Linked DNA regions of Homo sapiens. The protein of the gene in region 6 purifies or fractionates together with the protein of the main gene of each other region. This does not show direct contact. Each region holds a gene or a part of one and is shown on either strand. Other genes may lie near its edges. The genes, in order: DHRS7, WDR44, ADCY3, DHRS3, TAP2, PTCH2 and PLEKHH3.

What was found.
Region 1: the proteins of PTCH2 (region 6) and DHRS7 purify together in Homo sapiens (affinity purification with mass spectrometry; one large-scale study listed by BioGRID and IntAct). This does not show direct contact.
Region 2: the proteins of PTCH2 (region 6) and WDR44 purify together in Homo sapiens (affinity purification with mass spectrometry; one large-scale study listed by BioGRID and IntAct). This does not show direct contact.
Region 3: the proteins of PTCH2 (region 6) and ADCY3 purify together in Homo sapiens (affinity purification with mass spectrometry; one large-scale study listed by BioGRID and IntAct). This does not show direct contact.
Region 4: the proteins of PTCH2 (region 6) and DHRS3 purify together in Homo sapiens (affinity purification with mass spectrometry; one large-scale study listed by BioGRID and IntAct). This does not show direct contact.
Region 5: the proteins of PTCH2 (region 6) and TAP2 purify together in Homo sapiens (affinity purification with mass spectrometry; one large-scale study listed by BioGRID and IntAct). This does not show direct contact.
Region 7: the proteins of PTCH2 (region 6) and PLEKHH3 purify together in Homo sapiens (affinity purification with mass spectrometry; one large-scale study listed by BioGRID and IntAct). This does not show direct contact.

The regions. Positions count from the first base shown.
Region 1 is NC_000014.9:60,146,009-60,148,398, forward strand, and holds part of DHRS7 (dehydrogenase/reductase SDR family member 7 isoform 1 precursor), read right to left. Parts: intron 2,214-2,390; exon of another isoform or gene 1-2,213. UniProt on the Homo sapiens protein: NADPH-dependent oxidoreductase which catalyzes the reduction of a variety of compounds bearing carbonyl groups including steroids, retinoids and xenobiotics.
Region 2 is NC_000023.11:118,394,606-118,398,105, reverse strand, and holds part of WDR44 (WD repeat-containing protein 44), read right to left. Parts: intron 2,858-3,500; coding exon 2,762-2,857; intron 1,137-2,761; coding exon 1,000-1,136; intron 1-999. UniProt on the Homo sapiens protein: Downstream effector for Rab11 which regulates Rab11 intracellular membrane trafficking functions such as endocytic recycling, intracellular ciliogenesis and protein export.
Region 3 is NC_000002.12:24,826,238-24,829,737, forward strand, and holds part of ADCY3 (adenylate cyclase type 3), read right to left. Parts: intron 1,925-3,500; coding exon 1,665-1,924; intron 1,372-1,664; coding exon 1,309-1,371; intron 1-1,308.
Region 4 is NC_000001.11:12,576,711-12,580,210, forward strand, and holds part of DHRS3 (short-chain dehydrogenase/reductase 3), read right to left. Parts: intron 2,703-3,500; coding exon 2,583-2,702; intron 2,314-2,582; exon of another isoform or gene 2,247-2,313; coding exon 2,008-2,246; intron 1-2,007. UniProt on the Homo sapiens protein: Catalyzes the reduction of all-trans-retinal to all-trans-retinol in the presence of NADPH.
Region 5 is NC_000006.12:32,828,740-32,832,239, forward strand, and holds part of TAP2 (antigen peptide transporter 2), read right to left. Parts: intron 2,068-3,500; coding exon 1,879-2,067; intron 1,702-1,878; coding exon 1,528-1,701; intron 1,351-1,527; coding exon 1,191-1,350; intron 798-1,190; coding exon 661-797; intron 296-660; coding exon 167-295; 3' UTR 1-166. UniProt on the Homo sapiens protein: ABC transporter associated with antigen processing. In complex with TAP1 mediates unidirectional translocation of peptide antigens from cytosol to endoplasmic reticulum (ER) for loading onto MHC class I (MHCI) molecules.
Region 6 is NC_000001.11:44,836,754-44,840,253, forward strand, and holds part of PTCH2 (protein patched homolog 2), read right to left. Parts: intron 1-3,500. UniProt on the Homo sapiens protein: Plays a role in the control of cellular growth. May have a role in epidermal development. May act as a receptor for Sonic hedgehog (SHH).
Region 7 is NC_000017.11:42,670,705-42,673,994, forward strand, and holds part of PLEKHH3 (pleckstrin homology domain-containing family H member 3 isoform 1 precursor), read right to left. Parts: coding exon 3,230-3,290; intron 3,131-3,229; coding exon 2,939-3,130; intron 2,853-2,938; coding exon 2,695-2,852; intron 2,593-2,694; coding exon 2,472-2,592; intron 1,689-2,471; coding exon 1,382-1,688; intron 855-1,381; coding exon 647-854; intron 427-646; coding exon 290-426; intron 2-289; coding exon 1-1.

The DNA.
Region 1 (2,390 bases), on a different chromosome or scaffold from region 6:
GAAAATTTATATATATACATATATATAAAATATAAAATAGTGGGAGAGAGGAAGAGTACAGACTATAAAGAATGAGGTATTATGTCCTAAAAATTGCTTTGAGAAATGACAGAATGCCCAGCTTATAATAAAGAGTGACAAAGTAGTAAGACTATATAATAAGCAATATTTCAAAGATGGTGGTAGGAAGAAAAAGGCTGTCATTTTTTTAGAAAAACCTAGATGTAAAAAAAATGCGAGATTTGCTAAATGATGTTTATATTTTACAGTTAGATATTCTCTAAACAAAACAAAATATCCTTCATATGGACATTTCTGGAAGTACTACTACAGTGGGACTGAAATTCTCTAGTCCCTGGTCCCTCTTTCCCCTTTGAAAAAAAAATCACTTCTATAATATATTCTTTCTCTGCCCTATTATTTAAATTGAGAATGTGAACCAGTACAGACATTATGGAAAATACGGAAATTCCTCAAAAAATTAAAAATAGAATTACCATCTGATCCAGCAATTCCACTTAAGGGTATAAATCTAAAGGAAGTGAAATCAGTACCTTGAAGTGATACCTACACTCCCATGTTCATTTTAGCATTATTCATAATAGCCAAGATATGGAAACAACCTAAGTGTCCATTAGTGAATGAATGGATAAAGAAAATGTGTGTGTGTGTCTGTGTGTGTATATATATATATGGAATATTATTCCACAATGGAATATTTTTCAGCCATAAAACAATGGAACTCCTGGCATTTGTGAAAACATGGATAATGAATGGACGTTAATGCTAAGTGATATAAGCAAGATACAGAAAAACAAGTACTATGTGATTTCACTTCTGTGGAATCTAAAAAGTCATACTCAAAAGCAGAGTAGAATGATGGTTGCCAGGAGCCAGAAGATGGAGGAAATGGGGAGATCTTGGTCAAAAGGTACACATTTTGGCCAGGCACAGTGGCTCACACCTATGATCCCAACACTTTGGGAGGCCAAGGTAGGTGGATCGCCTGAGCCCAGGAGTTTGAGACTAGCCTGGGCAACGTGGCAAAAACCCGTCTCTACAAAAACTACAAAACCTAGCCAGGCATGGTGGTGTGCGCCTATAGTCTCAGCTACTCAGGAGGCTGGGGTGGGAGGATTGCTTGAGCCTGGGAGGTAGAGATGGGAGTGAGCCATGATCACGCCACTGCAGACTCCAGCCTGGGTGACAGGGCGAGACCCTGTCTCAAAGAAAAAAAATGGTAGATATTTTCAGTTATAAGATAAATAACTTATGTTATTATAATTTACAGATTCTAAGGATCTAATATACCGCATGGTGACTACAGTTAATAATACTGTATAGCATATTTGAAATTTGCTAAGAAGATTTTAAGTGTTCTCACCACACACAAAAAAAGGTAACTGGGTGACATGTATTAATTAGCTTGATTGTGGTAATCATTTTACAGTGTATATTAGATCATCACAATGTATACCTTAAATATATATAATTTTTATGTGTCAATTATAAAGAAAATCTTTGATCATTAAGGAAGCTGAATATCCTGCTATATCTAACTCAAGCTGAGAAGGGGGAAAAAGCACAATAGCTAACACTTAGAACACTCCAAGTTGTGTTTTAAGTGCTTTTCATATATTAAATTCATGTAATTCCCATAACAATCCTGTGACTGGGCACTATTATCATCATTAATCTCCATCTTATATTAATAGATGGGGAGACTGAGTGATAGAGAAGTAACTTGCTTTAAGGGCATGGGGCAGAGCTGGGATTTGAACCCAGGTAGCCTAGCACCAGGCTGCATGCTCTGCCAGGAGGCTGTGCTTCCTCTGTAGTAAGGTGGCCTGTCCCTCTCAACTCTTTCCATCACTGGGCACAAAGCTACTGCATCAGCTGTCCTCCATATTTAAAACTCAGGTATACTCTTTGATGAAACTCTACCTTTAGAGCTTCTACCCACACTACCAAGTCCCAACAATACCAAAACACTCATAAGGGATCTGGCCCAAAGCAAACTGTTCCACATTACTACTTGGTAGAAAACGAAAAGCTCCTTTTTGATTTTTCACACTCTGGACATTTTAGTGTGTCATGACCCAGTCTGATAACCTTTTATGTCTCTTAAGCATTTTGTTGTGTTTGTAACTTTTTACCCCCTAATTCATTTTCACTGTCCTGCAAAGAGTTGGAATAAATTAAATGTCTAACAATTAGTGGATTGCTTAAATTTTTGCAGGTATATATAGTATGATCTTGTTTTATAATTCTTTTTTTATCTGTCAATCCCCATTGATTAATTTCTAAAAGAAGGTGGTAACAAAGTATATCAAAGGCTAACAGTAAAAACCATCCTCAGCAATAATCTTTTGCTGCATAATCATCTATAA
Region 2 (3,500 bases), on a different chromosome or scaffold from region 6:
ACCACCATGTCTGGCTAATTTTTTGTATTTTAGTAGAGACAGGGTTTCACCATGTTGCCCAGGCTCGTGTCGAACTCCTGAGCTCAGGCAATCCACCCACCTTGGCCTCCTAAAGTGCTAGAATTACGGGTGTGAGCCACTGTGCTCGGCCCATATAATTTTAATTTAAATGATGGACCTGACAACTTAAAGGCTTCAGAAATTGAAGAAAAGAATCTTTAAGCAAGGTTCAATGTACAACATGTAAATGAATGCAATTTAGAAATTTATGAAAAACCTACTACAAACAAACCTTTTTGCTTGGCAAAATGTGCTATAGGGAAATAATAAAGTAACTTGTAGGTATCTTCCTCCCCACTCATTAAGTACATCCTGCATTACATTTAATAAAATAGCTCCTGCTTTTACCAAAATGATTCAATAGATCCACATACATCTCGTAGTAAAGTCACTCATCTCATTTTAAAGCCATTTTCTGATCCTACAAAAACAGTACAAATATTTAAACAATTTATGATCCTTAAAGCAAGGTTTCAGAAGACTAAGTGTTCATTCTACATAGCTTTTTAGCCTCATTTTTCTGTTATTTTAATTTATTTATTTATTTTTGTGGAGATGAGGTCTCACTATGTTGCCCAGGCTCCTCTCTAACTCCTGAATTCAAGTGCTGCCTCAGCCTCCTAAAGTGCTGGGATTACAGGCATGAACTATCACGCCTGGCTGCCTCACTGTTTTTATATTGTCTCAAGTATAATTTAAATCATTAAAAAAGAGAAATTAAGTGCTATGGGATTTAATATTTATACTATTTTCCCCAAGTAACTGTACAGTCATAATGAAGAGCAAAGTTAAAGAATACATACATTATCTAACTCTATTTTAATTCCAGAAGAAAAAAGACTGAATGAAACCAAATTAGGGGTTGTCATAGTTCATTAACAGAGAAATCTTAACAACTCTGAAATACTAGAAATGACAAATAACAACATTAGGCCATACCTTACATATTCTTTTGTCCTTCTCATGATGTGTAGAGTGAGAGGATTAATGCCTGTTGGTAGTTTCTCTTCTGCAAGACTCAAAGGTATTTCTTCTCCAGTATCCAGGTTCTTAATCATTACACTGGCTAAAATTTCCTGAGGTTAAAAAAAAAAAACAATCACACCAAGATGACCTGCAATTTAATTATCTTTTTGAGTCTACAAAATCCCCTAAAATTTAAGCTAAAGGCTTTTTAGATATATTCAATACTGCACACAATAATTTCTAACATTTTTATTGAGATATAATTCACATGCCACAAAATGCACTCATTTAAAGCATATAATTCAATGGTTTTTAGTATATTCACAGAGTTGTACAACTATTGCCACTAAGTCAGAATATTTTCTGCACCCCAAAAGGAAATTCCCTACCCATTAGCAGTCACACCTCATTTCCCTTTCTTTTTAGCCCCTGGCAAATACCAATCTACTTTCTGTCTCTATAGATTTGCCTATTCCATACATTTCATATAAATCAAATCCTGTAATATATGGCGTTTTATGTCGGTTTCTTTAACTTAACATGATGTTTTCAAGGTTTATCCATGTTGTAGCATGTATCAGTACTTTATCCCTTCATTCCTTTTAATTGCTAAAAAATATAACATGGTATGAATATACCACATTTTATTTATCCATCCAATCAGTGATGAACATTTGGGTTGTTTCCACTTTCTGGCTGTTATGAATGATGATGCTGTGAATATTTGTGTACATTTTTTTGTGTGAACATATGTTTTCATTTCTCATTGGTATATACAAAGGAACGGAATTGCTGGGTCATGGTAACACTATGTTTCACATTTTGAGGAATTGCCAAACTGTTTTCCAAAGTGCAATATTTTAAGAAATGTATTGTTTTAAAGAAACATCAACTAAGATTTTGCTGTAAAATTTAATTCTGAATAAGTTGGCTAATAGGTGCATACTAAGTTTTAATGATAAGAAACCATTAAAATAATAAAAAAATTTATTTTGGTATAACATATATTCATAATATCAAGTTCTTTTATTATTATATTATTTTAAATTTTTTTTCTTGAGACCGAGTCTTGCTCTGTCGCCCAGGTTGGAGTGCAGTGGTGTGATCTCGGCTCACTGCAACCTCCGCCTCCCAGGTTCAAGTGATTCTCCTGCCTCAGCCTCTGGGTAACTGGGATTACAGATGCACACCACCATGCCTGGCTAATTTTTGTATTTTTAGTAGAGACAGGGTTTTGCCATGTTGGCCAGGCTGGTCTCAAACTCCTGACCTCAAGTGACCTGCCCACCTTGGCCTCCCAAAGTGCTGGGATTACAGGAGTGAGCCACCACACCTGGCCTCAATATCAAGTTCTTTTAAAGCCCACTTTCTATAAAATATAAACCTTGCTTTCAATATATTTATTCCACTATGCAACACAGTGAAAGGGCAAGTTTAAGTCAGAGATGCTACATCCAGCATATCAACAAAGACAATCTTCAATTTTCATTTTTTCTTCTGTATTTTTTTTTGTGTGTAACAGCAATAAACTTAAAAAAAATTAAATTGTGGTAAACTACACATAACATAAAATTTACCATTTTAACCATTTTTAAGTGTATAGTTCTGGGTCATTAAGTACATTCACATTGTCATGCAACCATCATTACCATCCATCTCCAGAACGTTTTCATCTTCCCATTATGTTTTTTGTACTTTATGTTTTAAGAACAAGAACAAAAAAATCTATTTCTACCTCATCAGTAAGCTCTCTCCCAGAGTTGGATCTAGGTCTCTGAGGGCCCATCACTTCACCTGCTACAGTCTGCCCATCAGGTGCTTTTCCATTTTCCTGGAAATATAATTTTATAAACAGAAATTAGACTGAATCAATTTCTATAAATTTTCAATTATTACCACATATAATTCTAAAGAATTTCATAATTCAGATAATGGAGTCTGCTGAAAATCTAAATGGAACATTACGTTTCAGTCCTTCATTTTTCCCAGCATGCTGAAAAACATTAGGAACCAAAACTATTGCTGCTCATGAAATAATGTCTTAGTATTCTTGAAAACAAATAAATGTTCTATTTGAACCTGGCCAAAAGGCATTTCTCTACTAAGACTGCTATTAATCTGGACTGTATGTGGCTACCTCAAAGGTAGGGGTCAGAAAACTTCTCTCTATAAAGAGCCATACAGTAAATATTTAAGGCATTTTTGTTCATATAGAGTCTCTGTCACATATTCTTCTTCTTATTTTAAACAACCTTTAAAAATGTAAAGAACATTCTTAGCTTGGGGAACCTCCTAAAGCAGGCCACTACTGACCCCTGCTCTAAGGCTATAACAAGACTATAGTGTCCTATATTCTAGTGTGGTAGCCTGGCCCACCACAGCTACCATGTAAGTAGCTCTGAGTCCCAGAATCTGGCTGTGGTAAAATTAGTGTTATCAAGTCTTTTGTGTAGCCCGCTTCCTAGCATATAAAG
Region 3 (3,500 bases), on a different chromosome or scaffold from region 6:
CCCCGGCTCCTTAGGCCCTTTCACATCAAGTCGGGCTCCCCCGGGCAGTAAAATTTTCTTAACTCACTGGGCTCCTCTCCAACAGCCAGGCAACCCCTGGCCCCTCCTGGCTGCACCTGGTATTCACATCAGGGCTGCTCCCCAGGTATTTAAGAAACACTGCATTGCCTGACTGATCACAGAGGTAGCTACAACCATGCAGGAATTTGGAGAAGCAAGAGACATCAGTGATGGGATTTCATAGCCATGGGACTGGGGTACAATCTCACCATGGCTTTTTACCTTGTTCATACATATTTTTATGTGGAGCTGTGGTTAGTTTCCATTACCGTATGGTATTTCACTGCATGAATATACCAGTTATGTATCCATTTCCTGTTGATGTCATTTGGGTTGTTTTCATTTGTTTTGGGGGAGGGGGTATGTCTATTACGAACAGTGCCACTTTGGACATTCTCATACATATATCCTGGGACATGAGTATGTGCATGAATTTCTCTAAGATGTGTGTATATATATATATACACATATACACACGTCTGCGTGGGTGTGTATGTAGGAGTGGAATTGCTGGGACACAGGTTTATTTTCAACCTTACTAAATAGATCAAAATATTTTCTAACACGGTTGTACTAACTCATACTCCCACCAGGAGTGTAAGAGTTACTATTGTACTTGATATTGTCAGAGTTATCTGGACCGGTACGTGTGTGATGGTATCTCACTAGGGTGTAACTGGCATTTCCTTGATTACTTGAGTGCCATTTATTAGTGGCCATTTAGAGTTCTTCTTTTGCTAAGGGCTATGCAGGTTTTACCCCTCTTCTATTAGGTCATCTTTTTATTTCTAAACTTCCTTGAAGGTCTGTTCAAGTCATGGAATCATAAAATTTTAAAACCTTGGCACTGGCAGGGACCTTAGAGAACTTCTGGTTCAGTATCCTCCTCAAGAGATGAAATTGCAACTCATGGAAACGGACCTGCCTGTGACCCACAGAGAATTACTGCCTGCTGCAGGCTCAGAAGCCAGGTCCAAATCCAAAGCGTCTTCCTCCCTCCTCATTTTCCTGCTGCCTGTCTGTCCTGCCAGCCAGTTACATGCAGCTGCCATCCACCTGGTATTTCCTTCCCTCCTCACTGCACTGCTGCAGCCCTCCTGGAGGAACCCATGCCAGCTTCTCTAACCTGCACGTATCAGGTCACGTGCCTCCCGGGAGGGTGAGATCCCGGGGCTTGGGCCTGTTATATTCCTGTCTCTAGAAGAAGGGCTGTGAGTGCAGGCCAGGAGGGGAAGCCGTGGCCCTTACCTGTCAGTGCCATTGAGCCCAGGGTTGAATCCTTGCATCTGCTCTAAGGCCACCATAGGTAAGCTGTTGGACAGATAACAGCACAGTCAGGCCCCATCTGGGAACAAGAGCCTGATGCCCAGCCAGGCACCGGGGTATCCCAAGTCCTCCACTCGGGGAGAATGGGAAGAATCTATTCTCAGGTCCTAGCCAAACAGTGATACGTCTGTGAGCAGCCAGGAACTGGTTCTTGAACAAGCCTTTGAGGACCCCTAGTGGCAGAAAGCCACCTCAGCACAGGCCCATGAGCTTGAACTGAGGACTTTGCGGGCGGGAGGAAGGAGACAATACAGATCCCCAGTCACGCTTCATCTTACTCGTGCTCCCGAAAACGCTTGTGGTCGTATTCATCAAAGACGGGACGCCAGGCATAGAGGTTGATGGTGGCCACGGCGCCTGCGACGAGCAGCATGAGCGTGAGCTTCACCATGTGGCTGACCTGCACCAGCATGATGGTGGCGATGAGGGACAGCACGGCCACATAGTTGTAATACTTGGGGTTCTCCAGGCAGCTGCCCTCCGTTTCCATCCCTGCCGTTGCATTGCTGGGTCCCGTGTAGTACTGGAGACAGCTGAGCTGGAGGCCAGGACGGCGGGCAGGGACACACGTTCAAGAGAACAGCAGGTGCTGGTCACAGAGGGCTGTGCATGGTAGTGCACGCTCAGCTGCCACCTCCCGCGGCTCCCCCAGAAATACCGGGAAAGATGGGGAAATTTACCAGGGACTAATCATATGAAAGTTAGTAACTGCAGCTAAGAGCCTCGCCGTTGCCTCATTTGACATTCACAAAAACTCTCTCGAGTATTTTTAGTACTGTCCCTATTGTACAGAAAACTCGGGCCAGATTTGCCCAAACACAATTAGCAAGCAGAAAAGCCAAAAGTAGGAGCCAAGTCTTTAGGCTTCAAATCCAACATGTTCTTCCCCATATCACACTGTTGCTTCAGGAGGGGCCACGGGACCATGAGCCCCACTCACAGCCTCCCCGTGATGACAGCTAGTCTCTGCCCAAATCCTTCCATTGGGGGGATGTTCACTGCCTTCTGGATTCTTTACTGGTTCTGCTACTGGGCAGATGCGGCCGGGAGAAAGCGCATCCAGAACCGGAATCAACCCCCCCTTTTTGTAACTTTCACCCACAGGGCAACCTTGTCTTGCTTGCGCGATTCCCGCCATGTCATTCTAGCATGAGCAGTTGTTACACCTCCCTAGCTTTTTACCCCTCCATGAGTGACAGCATCTCCAGGTGTCCTGTACAGTGTCCAGGACCCCATGCAGTGGTGACCTCCACACCTGGGTGCCAGGTTCCAGGCATGTTGTGACATGCAGGGGGCCTGGGGCTTCTCTTCCCTGGGTAGTGGGCACCAGCAACCCCTGGCCAAGGTAGGCTCTGGAGCCCCTAACTCCTCATTCCCAGTAGACTTATTCTTTTTTTTCTTTTTTTTTTTTGAGATGGAGTCTCGCTCTGTCGCCCAGACTGGCGTGCAGTGGTGCATTCTTGGCTCACTGCAACCTCCACCTCCCAGGTTCAAGCGATTCTCCTGCCTCAGCTGCCCAAGTAGCTGGAATTACAGGCTCGTGCCATTGTGGCTGGCTAATTTTTGTATTTTTAGTAGAGACGGGGTTTCACCATCTTGGCCAGGCTGGTCTCAAACTCCTGACCTCAAGTGATCTGCCTGCCTCAGCCTCCCAAAGTGCTGGAATTACAAGTGTGAGCCACCGCGCCCGGCCCCCCACTGGACTTCTGATTAGCTGCAGCCCTGGAGCTTTTTCACTTATACCACTGGCAGAATAAGTCTCCATGTTGGTTGTATTTGTGTGCTCCAATTTTTTTTTTTTTTTTTTTTTTTTTTTTGAGACAAAGTCTCACTCTGTTGCCAGGCTGGAGTGCAGTGCACAATCTCGGCTCACTGCAAGCTCCACCTCCCGGGTTCACGCCATTCTCCTGCCTCAGCCTCCTGAGTAGCTGGGACTACAGGCGCCTGCCACCACGCCCGGCTAATTTTTTTGTATTTTTAGTAGAGACGGGGTTTCAACTGTGTTAGCCAGGATGATTTCGATCTCCTGACCTCGTGATCCGCCCGCCTTGGCCTCCCAAAGTGCTGGGATTACAGGCGTGAGCCACTGCGCCCGGCACCGTGTGCTCCAATTG
Region 4 (3,500 bases), about 32 Mb from region 6:
AGTCTAGACTCCTCGAAATTCAGAATTGATGACAATTTGCATGCAAACCAGGTGGTCTGCTAGGAAAATTAATAACATGCATTTATGAAGATGTTTATTGTTAGGAAAAATAATAAAAGCAGCAGCTCCTTATTGAGCATCTAGTATCCGGGCTTTGCACTAGATGTGTTACATGTATTATTTCTAATTTCCTGGGCTCAAGCCATCCTCCTGCCTCAGCCTCCCAAAGTGCTGGGATTGCAGTCATGAGCCACCAAGCCCGGTATTTTTGATTCTCAACAATCAACACCGCACTGTCCCGATTAATAGTAACTAAGGCGTAATGAGTGACTCCCACGTGGCATGCACTACACTAAATTGTCTCACTGAATTCTCCTCATGACCCTTCCGTGTCATCCTCATTTTTGGAAGCAGCTGCAATATATAATCAGAAGGTGAAGCACTGTACGCTGGATTGCAAAAAACCAGGGAGAATAGTATTTGAGTAATTCCCGGTTTTCATTCATCGATGACGTCATGCCCCTACATAACTGCACATCATTAAAGCGCCATTTATTGGGCACTTAATATGTACCACACACGGTGTTCCCTGCCAGATTCCACTTTGTCCTCACTGCAGAACCTATGATGGAGACATTCGCGCACCCCATCTTGCAGATCAGCCACAGCAGTAATTAACGGGACCCAATGTCACAGAGTACATCACAGCTATGAGGGAGTCACCACCCCAGGTGGCATGAGCTCTAGACCAGTGGTCCCCGTTCCCCTTGACTTAACTGGTTTGGAGGAGGAGTGGTGGGACCTCCCTATTACTCATTTTAAATTGAGCTACGGCCAGGCGTGGTGGCTCACACCTGTCATCCCTGCACTTTGGGAGGCTGAGGTGGGTGGATCACCTGAGGTTGGGAGTTTGAGATCAGCCTGGCCGACATAGTGAAACCCCGTCTGTATTAAAAATACAAAAATTAGCTGGGTGCAAGCGCACGCCTGTAATCCCAGCTACTCGGGAGGCTGAGGCAGGAGAATCACTTGAACCCAGGAGGTGGAGGTTGCAGTGAGCCGAGATCGCGCCACTGCACTCCAGCCTGGGCAACGGAGCGAAACTCCATCTCAATAAATAACTAAATAAACAAACAAATAAATTGAGCTATAATTTGCATATAACAAAAGGTATACATCTTAAGCAGACAGTTTGATTAACTTTCACGTATTTAATGACTGCTAAGTTCAAGAAGAGAGAACATTTCTGAAGGTCTTGCTAGTTCCCTCGCCTCCCTCCCAGGTTACACCCCCAGCCCTCCAGGGGAAGCCACGGGTCTGATTTCCATCACCCTAACCCAGTTTTGCCTGTTTTGGAACTTCATACAGGTGGAACCAGGCAGAATGCACCCTATGTCTCAAGCTCCCTTCGCCCTGCACGACGCTGTGGAGGTGCATCTCCCTCATTTGACCTTTAGACACATCCCGCTGCATGCCTGTAGCTCTGGTAGTTTCCTATAAGCTCCCTGAACCAAGCAGCAGGACCCTCCCCATCGTGGCATCACTGCCTTGCAGACCGAGAACCAGGTAAGACAGCGTCAAACAGAGGGTAGAGGCTCCTTGGTGACTTTTTGTTTTGAGACAGGGTCTCACTCTCTCTCCCAGGCTGGAGTGCAGTCGCACAATCACAGCTCACTTGCAGCCTCAACTTCCTGGGCTCAAGCAATTGATCCTCCCACCTCAGCCTCCCAGATAGCTGGGAATACAGGTGTGCATCACCATGCCCAGCTAATTTTTTATTTTTTTTAGACACAGGGTTTCTCCATGCTGCCCAGGCTGGTCTCAAACTGGATTGCTGGGCTCAAGCGATCCACCTGCCTTGGCTTCCCAAAATGCTAGGATTATAGGTATGAGGCACCGTGCCTAGCCCGATTTTTATATCAGAGCTCTTTCTGCAGTTGGCTGACTGAATGGCTTGGGGAGGCAGGTGAGAAGGCTGGTCTCAAGGTGGGTCCCCTGCTCACTGACCTGACTCTCATGCCCTGGAACATCTCGGTGCTGGTGTGGAAGGGCAGCACTGTGGTGGCGCTGACTCCCGGACAGTCCAGCAGCCCCAGGGTCAGGCTCTCCATGAAGGCGAAGGCTGACGCTTTGGATGTGCAGTAGTCGATGGCACCGGGGATGGCAGACAGTGCCAGCACGGAGTTGAGGCACACGATGTGGCCATTCTGCAGCTCCAGCATACGCGGCAGGAAGGCCTTGGTGGTCTGAGGGCAGATGGGGTGTCAGGGTGGAGCAGCTGCAGCTCTGACAACCCCTCCACCTTTCTTTCGGGGAGAACAGCCCACCCCGGACACACATGATGCTCTAGGGCCCGAGCCTTCCTGCGAGGGAGAGGGCCGAGGGCTCCCTGCCCCAGGACACCGAGCATATTTCACAAAGTCTGATGTGTCCTAGAGCTGGTCATTCGTCTTGTCTGGCCACCTTGTTCGTGGACATCCCTGCTGGCCTGAGCCCAAGCCCTGGCAAATCATCCCCTCCCCTCCATCCTGCCTGGGCTCCCTGCACGCCCGGGGCTGGCTCTGGCCCCGGATAGCCCTTACCCAGAACTGGCCCAGGGTGTTGATGTGTTGGGACTTGAGGAGGGCATCATCATCACTGTCCATTAGGCTCTTCCCATGGACCACGGCGGCATTGTTCACCAGGATGGTGATGTCACCCACCTGCAGGCGAGAGGGAGCCACGGGGCCATGAGGGCAGCCAGCCCAGGGCCAACGATATATGTTTTTTGTTTGTTTGTTTTTGAGATGGAGTCTCACTCTGTTGTCCAGGCTGGAGTGCAGTGGCACCATCTCGGCTCACTGCCACCTCCGCCTCCTGGGTTCAAGCGATTCTCATGCCTCAGCCTCCCAAGTAGCTGGGATTACAGGCTCCTGCCACCATGCCTGGCTAATTTTTATATTTTTAGTAGAGATGGGGTTTCACCATGTTGGCCAGGCTAATCTTGTTCTGACCTCAAGTGACCCGCCTGCCTCGGTCTCCCAAAATGCTGGGATTACAGGTGTGAGCCACCGCACCCGGTCCAATATACTTTTTAAAAGGGATATGGCTTACTCCTAAGTGAACGAGTAATTTCTGAGTCCATTTATGATCAATCAATTGATGTGTTATTTACAAGTTTTTCTTAGATATTCCTTCCCGCAGGCCACTTTCTGCCAGCCTAGTTCCAGTTATCCTGCATACATAGAGGCCCAGCAGCCACCTGGCCGTACCACCAGCAGCCACAGGGCCTGGGGAAGAGAACTGCGTCTCTGAGCGCCAGTCTTGATTTGTGAGATGGGGCTAATGCCGCACCAGGACTGTTCTGAGGAGGAGAAATAATTTATGGCACACACCGTACCTGGCACACAGCATATTTATAATAAATGAGTTTACTGCGACATAAAAACAGTTAACATTACCACGTGCCAGACAGTCAGGGTGGGTTTCCCTCTCTTGGAGGTCACTGATATATTTAGCCC
Region 5 (3,500 bases), on a different chromosome or scaffold from region 6:
GTGCCTGCAACTCAGGAACAGCTATCTGGCCGCACAGCTCTAGGGAAACTCAAAGCAGGAACAGCTCTGGGTCCTGGAGACGCCCCTGAGAAGAGGGCCCAGTATCCCTGGGGCCTCAGTCCATCAGCCGCTGCTGCACCAGGCGGGAATAGAGGTCCTGTCCCTCCTAGAGCTGGGCAAGCTTCTGCAGCTTGCCCTCCTGGAGCACCAGGATCTGGTGGGCGCGCTGAACTGTCTGCAGCCTGTGAGCAATCACCAGCACTGTGCGATCCCCACGGGAATTCCAGTCCTGCAGCTGAAGGGGTGATCACAGTGCCTCAGAAAGACAGGAATGAGATGGACACCACATCCACCTGGGCACCATCTCTTATGATTTAGGGTAAAGAAGGTGTGAAATAAAAGAAGGTAGGAAAGGGCAGTAGATAAAGGCCTGGACTGCCCTTCTCTCCCGGCTGTACTGCCACAGCTGGAGGAATGGAAGCCCAGGAGGGAACTGGGGCTGCCCTCACACCACCGGATTCCATTCCCCAACCCCAAGAAGGCACAGACTGTTTCCACTAGTAGGTCCTTCGTCCTCCCTCTGCCCAATTCTGCACAGTCTGATCCTCCCAGCATGCCCCTCCCAGGCCCCACTGTCCCCTGCCCTCTCACGGTACTCACGGCCTGCTCGCACTGCACATCTAGGGCACTAGTAGCCTCATCCAGGATGAGGACCCGCGGGTCTCGTACAAGGGCCCGGGCAATGGCCAGACGTTGTTTCTGTCCCGCAGCCAGCTGGCTTCCCTTCTCCCCTACATCTGAGGAAATCAGAGAAATTCCCTTCCTCAGATACAAGTGACACAGACAACACACAAGGAGGGACAAGTGCACAGCAGGTACTTCCAGTAGGACCTCGGGAGGTGGGAGGGCCCAGTGCGGGGAGGGCCCAGTGGGAGGAGGGCCATGGGGTGGGGACCTGACGGGGCTGCCCACGGAGGGAGCACCACTGCTGCATTGCTCTCTGCAAACAAAGACTCTTGATCAAGAGGGAGGCTGAAGAATTCAGTGTGTGGGGAAGGAGACGTAGGAATGGAGGAAAGGGCAGAGGAACAGCAAACATCAAGCTACAGGGACACGACCTTCACCACTAAGAGTAAGTCTGATTTTCTCTTTTTTACTGAAGGAGCAAGCTTACAATTTGTAGAAGATACCTGTGTATATTCCATGCTCCATTTCCTGGATGAAGTCATCTGCGTGGGCAGCCTGGGCAGCCGCCATCACCTTATCATCTTCGCAGCTCTGCAGCCCATAAGCAATGTTGTTCCTCACAGAACCGGAGAACAGCACAGGCTCCTGCCCAACTGAAACCACCTGTGCAGCAGGGACAGGGGCAGAGGACTATGTGTAAACCCCCAAGGCAGGGGCCCTTTTGTCCTCCCCACCTACCTCCCTCAGAATGAACACCTGGTGCGCCTTCCCGTGGATCTCCCATCCTCTCTCTGTACATGCTCCCCTCTCCTGTCCCCTGTCTTCTCCCTCCTCACCCACCTGGCTGTGCAGGTAGCAGTGTTCATACTGTGAGATGGGCTTTTCATCCAGCAGCACCTGTCCCCCTGTGGGCTGGTACAGATTCTGCAGCAGGGCAGCCACTGTGCTCTTCCCAGACCCATTGGGTCCCACCAGCGCCGTCACCTCACCAGGACGTAGGGTAAACGTCAGCCCCTAGAAAACCAGAAAAAGAGTTAAGGGCCTGCCCCTTCTCCCTCAAAATCCCTCCATTTCTCTTCTTAGCAGAGGCAAGACCAGGTTCTCAGAGGCAAATGAACTATAGGCTGTGATGTCCAATTATGCATTAGCAGCAGAGAGCAAGGGTCCAGGTTTCCTCCCTCTTTCAGGCACCTTGAGCACAGGCCTGTCAGGGCGATTGGGATATGCAAAGGAGACGTCTTGGAATTTCACAACCCCCTGCAGAGTGGTGGGGGCAAGCGTGCCAGGTGAAGGCAGATTTGGCTGTCGGTCCATGTAGGAGAAAACCTTCTCTGCAGCTCCCACGTTGCTGAGCATATCCCCATATATGTATACCAGGGTCTGGAAAACAGGAATGGGAGAGCCGGCTAATTAAACACACTTCTACCAGAAACCACCCTCCCAACTCCTCACACACTCCACTCACAACTGCACTGCTCCTCCTCCATACTCAAAAGAGATTCTCCACTTTTAAATGTACAATTTGGACGGAATTTAAAAGTGGCACCAATACCCCAGTGTTCCAATTTGCAATATAAAGGATATACAGTCCCTTCTCCTACCATACAGCATTGCCTCTAGCCCCAGATCTTTTCAGTTACTGCTTCCTATTACTTGTGCCCAGTTCTGTCTTGCTTGATTAGACGGGGAGCTCCTTAAATGCAGGCACTGTGCCCAACTCACCTTTGTAGCCGTCAGAGTGCCCAGCGCAGTTCTCTACACAAAAAAGATGTTTATCAAGTGTCTAGGAAAATGTTTAAATAAAGCCCTGGATGAAGTAGCTGTTTTTGAGAACTGGTAAATGTAGGAAGAGATCTAAATGCTCACTCTGCCTTTCCTCATCAAACTGTACCACCGGGTAATGAAATGGTAGATGAGGGGAAGTCTCCCTTCATAGACTACTTCAGCTAATACATGAAGAATGATAGAGTATCTCCCTTTTGCAGCCCTAATTCTGTCATGGATGTAGGTACTGCTCATCAGTGGCTGATGTTGCCACAAATAGAGAACCAGACATTGTGTGCCTCTTGGAGGAAGAATGCATCACCACCTAAAAAGTACTGTTGCTGGAAAAAGACCAAAAAAAACCCCTCAATCTCACAAGCTTCTAGGTTTATCTATCAATAGACAGGAAGTACAGAGGCAGAAGAGCATATAATACCACAGGGATTCAGTCAACAAAATCCAGACCCTAAGAAACTCCACAGGACAAACAACCTATTTCTTCAACAAATAAACTGTGCAAGGGAAACTTTTAGACAGATACATGGATTGATGGGTGGATGGATGGATAGATGGATGGATAGATAGATAGACAGACAGACTTAAAAGATGTATCAACCAGTCACAATATGTGGACCATTTCTGGATCCTGATTTAAGCAAAGTATAATAAACACACTCATACACATATACTACATGGATACCACAAGTGGAAATTTGACAATTGACTATTTGATAAATTTTAAGAACTACTGTTAATTTTTTGGTGTGATAATGGCTTTGTTGTTATACACTTTTAAAGATGTTTGTATTTTTAAGAAACATACTGAAATATTTACAGATGAAAGTATACAATATCTTGGATTTGCTTCAGAATAATATGGGTGGGGGGAAGTGGCTGGGGATACAGATCCAACAAGATTGGGCATGAGTTGATCATTGTTAAAGCACAGGATGTATACATGTGAGTTTGTAATATTATTTTGTCTCATTTTTGGCATATGTTTAAAATTCTCCATAGCAAAATTACTTGCGGGTTTTGGTTTTGTATTG
Region 6 (3,500 bases):
CATAGTGGGACTGCGTCTCTACAAACAAACAAACAAACAAACAAAAAAATTAGCTGTGCATGGTGGCATGTGCCTGTAGTCCCAGATACTACAGAGAAAGAGGCAGGAGTACTGTGTGAGCCTAGGAGTTCCAGGCTGCAGTGAGCTGTGATTGTGTCACTGCACTCCAGCCTGGGTGAAAGAGTGAGACCCTGTCTCTATAAAACAAAACAAAAACAAAAAGAAATGCAAGACAAGAATGATTTCTTTTTCCTGACACTGCAGCAGCCACTTTGAGATAAGTCTGAGGACAAAAGTCCAGAATGTTGAAGATGGCAGAGGAGAAAGATAGAAAGAAACTGGGTCCTTGCTAATGTCCTTGGGCTGCCGAATTAACTGAATTAACCAGGCTTCCTGTTACAGAGAATAATAAATCAATCTTCTTTCTTCCTTCTTCCCTTCTTCCTTTCCTTTTCTTCTCTTTTCATGTGGCTAAAAGCATTCTATTATTTAATTTAATTTATTTATTTATATATTTTTTTGAGACAGAGTCTTGCTGTTACCCAGGCTGGAGTGCAATGGCACGATCTCAGCTCACTGCAACCTCCGCCTCCTGGGTTCAAGTGATCTCCTGCCTCAGCCTCCGGAGTAGCTGCGATTACAGGTACATGCCATCATGTGTGGCCAAATTTTGTATTTTTAGTAGAGACAAGGTTTTGCCATGTTGGCCAGGCTGGTCTCGAACTCCTGACCTCAGGTGATCCACCCCACCCTGGACTCCCAAAATGCTGGGATTACAGGTGTGAGCCACTGTGCCTGGCCTTATTTTATTTTTTAATTTTTTAGAAATAGAGATGGGTTTTTGCCATGTTGCCCAGGCTGGTCTTGAATTCCTGGGCTCAGTCAAGCCTCCCACCTTGGCCTCCCAAAATGCTAGGATTACAAGCATGAGCCACCACGCCTGGCCTAAAAGCATTCTAAATGATACAATCAGAAGTGTATTGCCAGAGATAGAACAAGGCCTCAACTAGAGCAGTGACCACAAGGTAGAAAGGATGGGTTTGTGCCGGGCCCGGTGGCTCAAGCCTGTAATCCCAGCACTTTGGGAGGCCGAGGCGGGCGGATCACGAGGTCAGGAGATCGACACCATCCTGGCTAACATGGTGGAACCCTGTCTCTACTAAAAAAAATACAAAAAAATTAGCTGGGCATGGTGGCGGGTGCCTGTAGTCCCAGCTACTCAGAAGGCTGAGGCAGGAGAATGGCGTGAACCCGGGAGATGGAGCTTGCAGTGAGCTAAGATCGCACCTCTGCACTCCAGTGTGGGCAACACATCAAGACTCCGTCTCAAAAAAAAAAAAAAAGAAAGGATGGGTTTGTTATGAGAGAGGTTAAGAAGCAAGGATTTAATAGTTTAGTAAACAATTGGGTGAACAAGAACTGAGGCTGACTCCTAAGGTTTTAGCTTTAGGTATTTAAGTGGATGGTGATTCTACCAACTGATATAAGGCCATCCTCTGTCTTCTACATGGAATGGCAGCTCTTGTTGCGCAGGCTGGAGTACAAAGACGCGATCTCGGCTCACTGCAAACTCTGCCTCCCGGGTTCAAGCGATTCTCCTGCCACAGCCTCCCCAGTAGCTGGGATTACAGGCATGCACCACCACGCCTGGCTAATTTTGTATTTGGAGTAGAGACAGTGTTTCACCATGTTGGTCAGGCTGGTCTCAAACTCTTGACCTCAAGTGATCCACCCGCTTCGGCCTCCCAAAGTGCTAGGATTACAGGCGTGAGCCACCGTGCCAGGCCTTTGTAATTTTCATTTTAGAGAACAATCTGCCTCTGAACGCTTGACTTTACAGTTGGCCAGGAAAGACAAACAAGTCAAATTCCAAGTCTCACTGAGGCAAAGTTAAGGAGGACCCTGAACTCTGGTCTGGAACACTGTGATAGCCAATGTTCGGTTTCTTCCTCGGCTTAATCTTTCTTTTTCTTTTCTTTTTTTTTTTTTTTGAGTCTCGCTCTGTCGCCAGGCTAGAGTGCAGTGGCACGATCTTGGCCCACTGCAACCTCTGCCTCCTGGGCTCAAGCGATTCTCCTGCCTCAGCCTCTGGAGTAGCTGGGACTACAGGCGCGAACCACCGCACTTGGCTAATTTTTGTATTTTTAGTAGAGATGGAGTTTCACCAAGTTAGCCAGGCTAGCCAGGCTGGTGTTGAACTCCTGACCTCAGGAGATCCACCTACTTCGGCCTCCCGAAGTGCTGGGATTACAGGCGTGAGCCACTGCACCCTGCCTTCTTACACTTTTTCTTTGAGACTGGGTCTCACAGTGAGACTCCATCTCTATGAAAAAAAAGATTGGCCTAGCGTCTGGCTCAGGCCTGTAATCCCAGCACTTTGGGAGGCCAAGGCGGGCGGATCACAAGGTCAGGAGATCGAGGCCAGCATGGCCAACATGGTGACACCCTGTTTCTACTAAAAATACAAAAAAATTAGCCGGGCATGGTGGCGCATGCCTATAGTGTCAGCTACTCTGGAGAATCGCTTGAACCCGGGAGGCGGAGGTTGCAGTGAGCCGAGATTGCGTCACTGCACTACAGCCTGGGCAACAGAGCAAGACTTACTCTCAAAAAAAAAAAAAAAAAAAAAACAGAAAGAAAAAAAAAGATTTTTACCTCACCCCCAGCCAATATAGGACAAGAGTGATATTCTGAAATAAAGGAAAAAAGCCTAGGAATTGGCTACCATCCTCTTATAAAACCCTCCCCCAAACAACAGCAAAAAACTGCTGGGGTCTAGCCTATCCTATGCTGGAGTATAGGAGAGAGGATGAGGAAACATGGAGGCTCAAGCAGTGTTTAGATGGGGAGAATGTGGGGAATGGAGAGGGAGGAAGGGAAGGGAGACTGCCTCTGTTGGGGCAGGAAATCCAAGAGTCATCTGGGACCACCCAGGCAGCAGTGGTGTGGGTGGGGATATGTGTATGTGCGTGTATGCACATCTGTGTCCTGGGGCTGGGGGCAGGCAGGCAGAGCGAGACATCTGCTCTGGACCCCAGGGCTGGCCTAGAGTGTATATGGATGTGAGAGTCTGCAGGGCTGGGGGTAGGTAGGGTGGGGATGGCGTGTGGGAGCTCAACAGGCAGGCAAGCTCTGAGAAACATCTGCTGTGGATCCTAGGACTTGCCAGTATTTGAAATAACTCGAGGGTGTGAGACTCCAACCTGGGTTCTGCCTTTGGGTATGGGCCAGGGCTGAGGGAGTCTACAAAATGCAAATTTCCCAGGGAAAAACAGACTGGAGTTTGACTCCTATCAAAGGGCTGCCATATGAAACCAGCCCTCAGGAAAGAAGAGAGTCATGCTGAAATTTTTTTTTTTTTTTTTTTGAGATGGAATCTCCCTCTGCTGCCCAGGCTGGAGTGCAGTGCGGCGATCTTGGCTCACTGCAACCTCCGCCTCCCAGGTTCAAGCAATTCTCCTGTCTCCGCTTCCCAAGTAGCTGGGACTACAGGCGCCCGC
Region 7 (3,290 bases), on a different chromosome or scaffold from region 6:
GCTGCAGAAGAGGAGCGGACGAAGCGCTAGGGAGAAGCCGGACCCCTACGGCGAGGGCAGCTTGGGGTGGGGGCGGGGCCATGTGTTTGGGGCGGGGCCTGGGCGGAGCCGACAGCGGAGGTGATGCTGCAGTCGGACTGCAAACCTGCGGCGGGCAGGTCCGTCTGTAAACCAGCGAACACCACAGCGCAGGGCCAGGGGCAAGCGCTGGATAATGTCCGCTTAGAGACTGACCTCAGCTGAGAAGTGGATGGGCTAATAGAGAGCAGGGCTGGGGCTGGACATTTACTTCTCAAACCTGGTGAGCACGTCGGCCACGAGGGTCCCCCCAGCCAGGGCTCGCTCCTGGGCCCCTCGCTGCTCGTACAGCGCGAATGCGTTGCGGCTCCGGGCCAAGCCCAGCCGCCCCACCAGCTCTCGAGCCACCTAGAAGAGGAGGGTGAGGGGAGACCACTCAGAGGTCTTGCCAGGATTCTGGGAGGGGTTGATTCAATTGGAAGGGGTCTCTTAGTCCTGTCACCACCACTCCCTCCCTTACCAAAATAATCTAGACTCGGGGCAAACCTAGGGTCCAGGAAGAGGGAGAGACAGGCGTGAGAAGCTGGCAGGGTGGGTTGGAGGTCATGGGGCCTTTCTCTGGCCTCACCTCCCCCGCCGTGGTGTGGGAGTCGATGGCCACAGCACAGGCACCAGCCCCCGGACAGTGCACGGTACACAGCAGCTCCTGCCGTTGGCTCAACGCGGAAATCTCCGCCAGCGAGGGCACCAGCTCTCTGCCGCGCGTCCGGCCCAGCGCTTTCCGGATGAAGCGCGCATATTCCGCCAGTTCCGAGTCCGGGAGTGCCTGCTCGGTCCTGGGTTAGGAGGAACCCAGGGATCAATACTCCAAGGGCTTTCTTCTCCCCCTCCCTCTTGCCTGCTTCTCTTATAGTTTATTTTATCTAGCCGATTTCCTCCCCGCCCCAACTCAAGTTCTTTGAAGGCTCTTCTAAATCTCTCCCCAGTGCTTTGCATAGAGCTGAATTACTTTTCAAGTCCCCTGGCAGCTTTCTCCCAACTGCCTCCACCACTTCCAAAAGTCTTCGTGATCTTCCTTCGGCCTGAAATCGAAATCCAGCCACTTTACTACATTTTCCTAAGCCCTGGCGCTGGCCTGCATCAGCTGGAGGAAAAGCAGCCTTTTCATAACTCCTCAGCCCAAGGGGGGCGTTTTATTGTAATTCATCCGCTCACAACTGCGATAGGATCTTGTATCTCCCACAAAGGCACTGTATGTATTACTCGGTTCTTTACCTACCAAGTCTTTTGCAAAAGACCTTTCATTCTCTCCCAGCCCGGTAGCTCCTCGCCTAGGCCGTAACCCCCACCTCGCCCCTCTCACCTCTCCAAGTGCCCCAGGAGGTGCCCCCGCACAGCTCCCCCAGGTCGGAAGGTGCAGCTCATGCAGGTGAGGAGTTGCCAGTACCGCAGGGCCGCAGGGTCTTGGGTAGCCGGGAGCCCGGGGGGACCTGCAGGGCCCGAGGTCTGCTTAGCCAGCTGCAGGAAGAGTTCATCCCGGAGCGCGGGCAAGTCCCGGCAGGTTTGGAGCACACCCTGCATCAAGGGCCCGGGGCGCCGCGCCCCCTCCAGCGCCTGCAGCGCCAAGAACAGCCGCACCGCCTCCTCGCGCAGGGGTGCATAGCCCGGACCTGTGGGAGGGTGGGGGCGGAGGGACGGTTTGGAGAGGGGACACAGAGCTGCGCCCTGGGAGGAAGGCATGAACCAGGGGAAGGTCAGAGGGAATATAAGGGGATGGGGTGGCAGGGAGGGGAGGGTACGAACGACAGGAAGAGTGAAGGGAAAGCAGTGGTCCCACGGAGCCAGACTCTCAACCTCTGCCTCCCAGGAATCCCCTTCCCAATCCCACTAAGCCTGCATTTGGACTTAGGGAGACGGACGGCCGGGAAGGGCTGTAGATTCACACCCCAGATTCTGTAACTCCATACTGAGGCTCACCACCATAGGTCAGAAAACAGGCTGGACTAGGAGTCAGAAAACCGGGGTTCCTCTCCCAGCACCCTTTAATCCTCTAACTTTAGGACCTGGGCCAGTCACTACACCGTTTAGGGAGAAGTACAGTTGGATGAGGCCAGCACATTCTACAAAAGTGGTAGCTTTTCTACCACTTGTAAAGGTAATATGGCATAGTCTCAAGAGGATAATGAAAAAATAGGGGAGTGTACAAACTCCTGAAGGAACATCAGTAGTCAGAATGAGACCCATAGAGAAGGTGGCCAAAGGGGGCCCTTTTGTGTGTGCTGGCTTCCTCTCCTCCACCCTGGCCAGCTTCCAGTTTCACCTTCATCCTTCGAAAAGTGAGGAGCTGGCAGGTCCATGAAGGATGCTTAGATCCCTGCCAGTTAAGGGATTCAGATTCTTACCTCTGAACCACCCCATCCCATCCAGGGGACTTGGGCCATGGGACCACTCACCTGGGGCGCTGACTCCATAGGGCAGGGGCAGGAGTGGGGCATACAAGGCTCCACTAGTGTGTCTCAGAATCGGGTTCCTCAGGTAAATGAGGGCAACGGCCTCTGGGTCCCCGCAACTTTCCTAGGGGGCCAGGGAGAGGGTCACCTTGATGGGGAAGGGAGTTCCTCACAACCCCAGAAAGCTTTGGGGTCCACCACTCTCCTGGCTCTCCCTGGTGTGTACCTGTATGTCCCTGAGCAGTAGCTGGGTGGGGGTCTCCAGGGGTGCCTTGGAGGCGATCACTTCCCGCAATGCCACCCCCCAGCGCTCAGCCTCTGCCTGGCGTGGGGAGCAGAGGCGGACACTGTGTTTCCGACCAGACACAGTCACTGACCACAGACCTGGGGAAAAGAGAGGCCAGGGAGGGCCATTAGGGTCTGCCGGGGCCCCTGCCTAGGAAGGTAGGAGAGTCCCCAGGAGGTCTCACCTGTCTCCTTACGCCTGCGCTCTGGGCCGGTCACCGAGCACAGGCTGGTGAGCACGAGGCTCCCGAGACGCCGCGCCCCTTTCCCGCTGCTGCTGAACTGATCCAGGGAGTCCCGCGTGAGCACAAACCAGGCTCGGCGCGGGGGCAGCCAGGGCCGCGCCCCTCCTCCGCGGGGCTCCCGGTACAGCCAACCTGGGGGCCGGAGAGGGAGGGAAGGGACATCAGTAGAGACATTAATCCCTAGGGGGTTGGGATTGGGGGCCTCCAGAGTGCACTGAGGGGGGTCTCTACCTTTCACAACGATGTCCGGGTCGTCCTCCGGCAGCCCTTTCTCCGGGATGAGGCTCCAAGT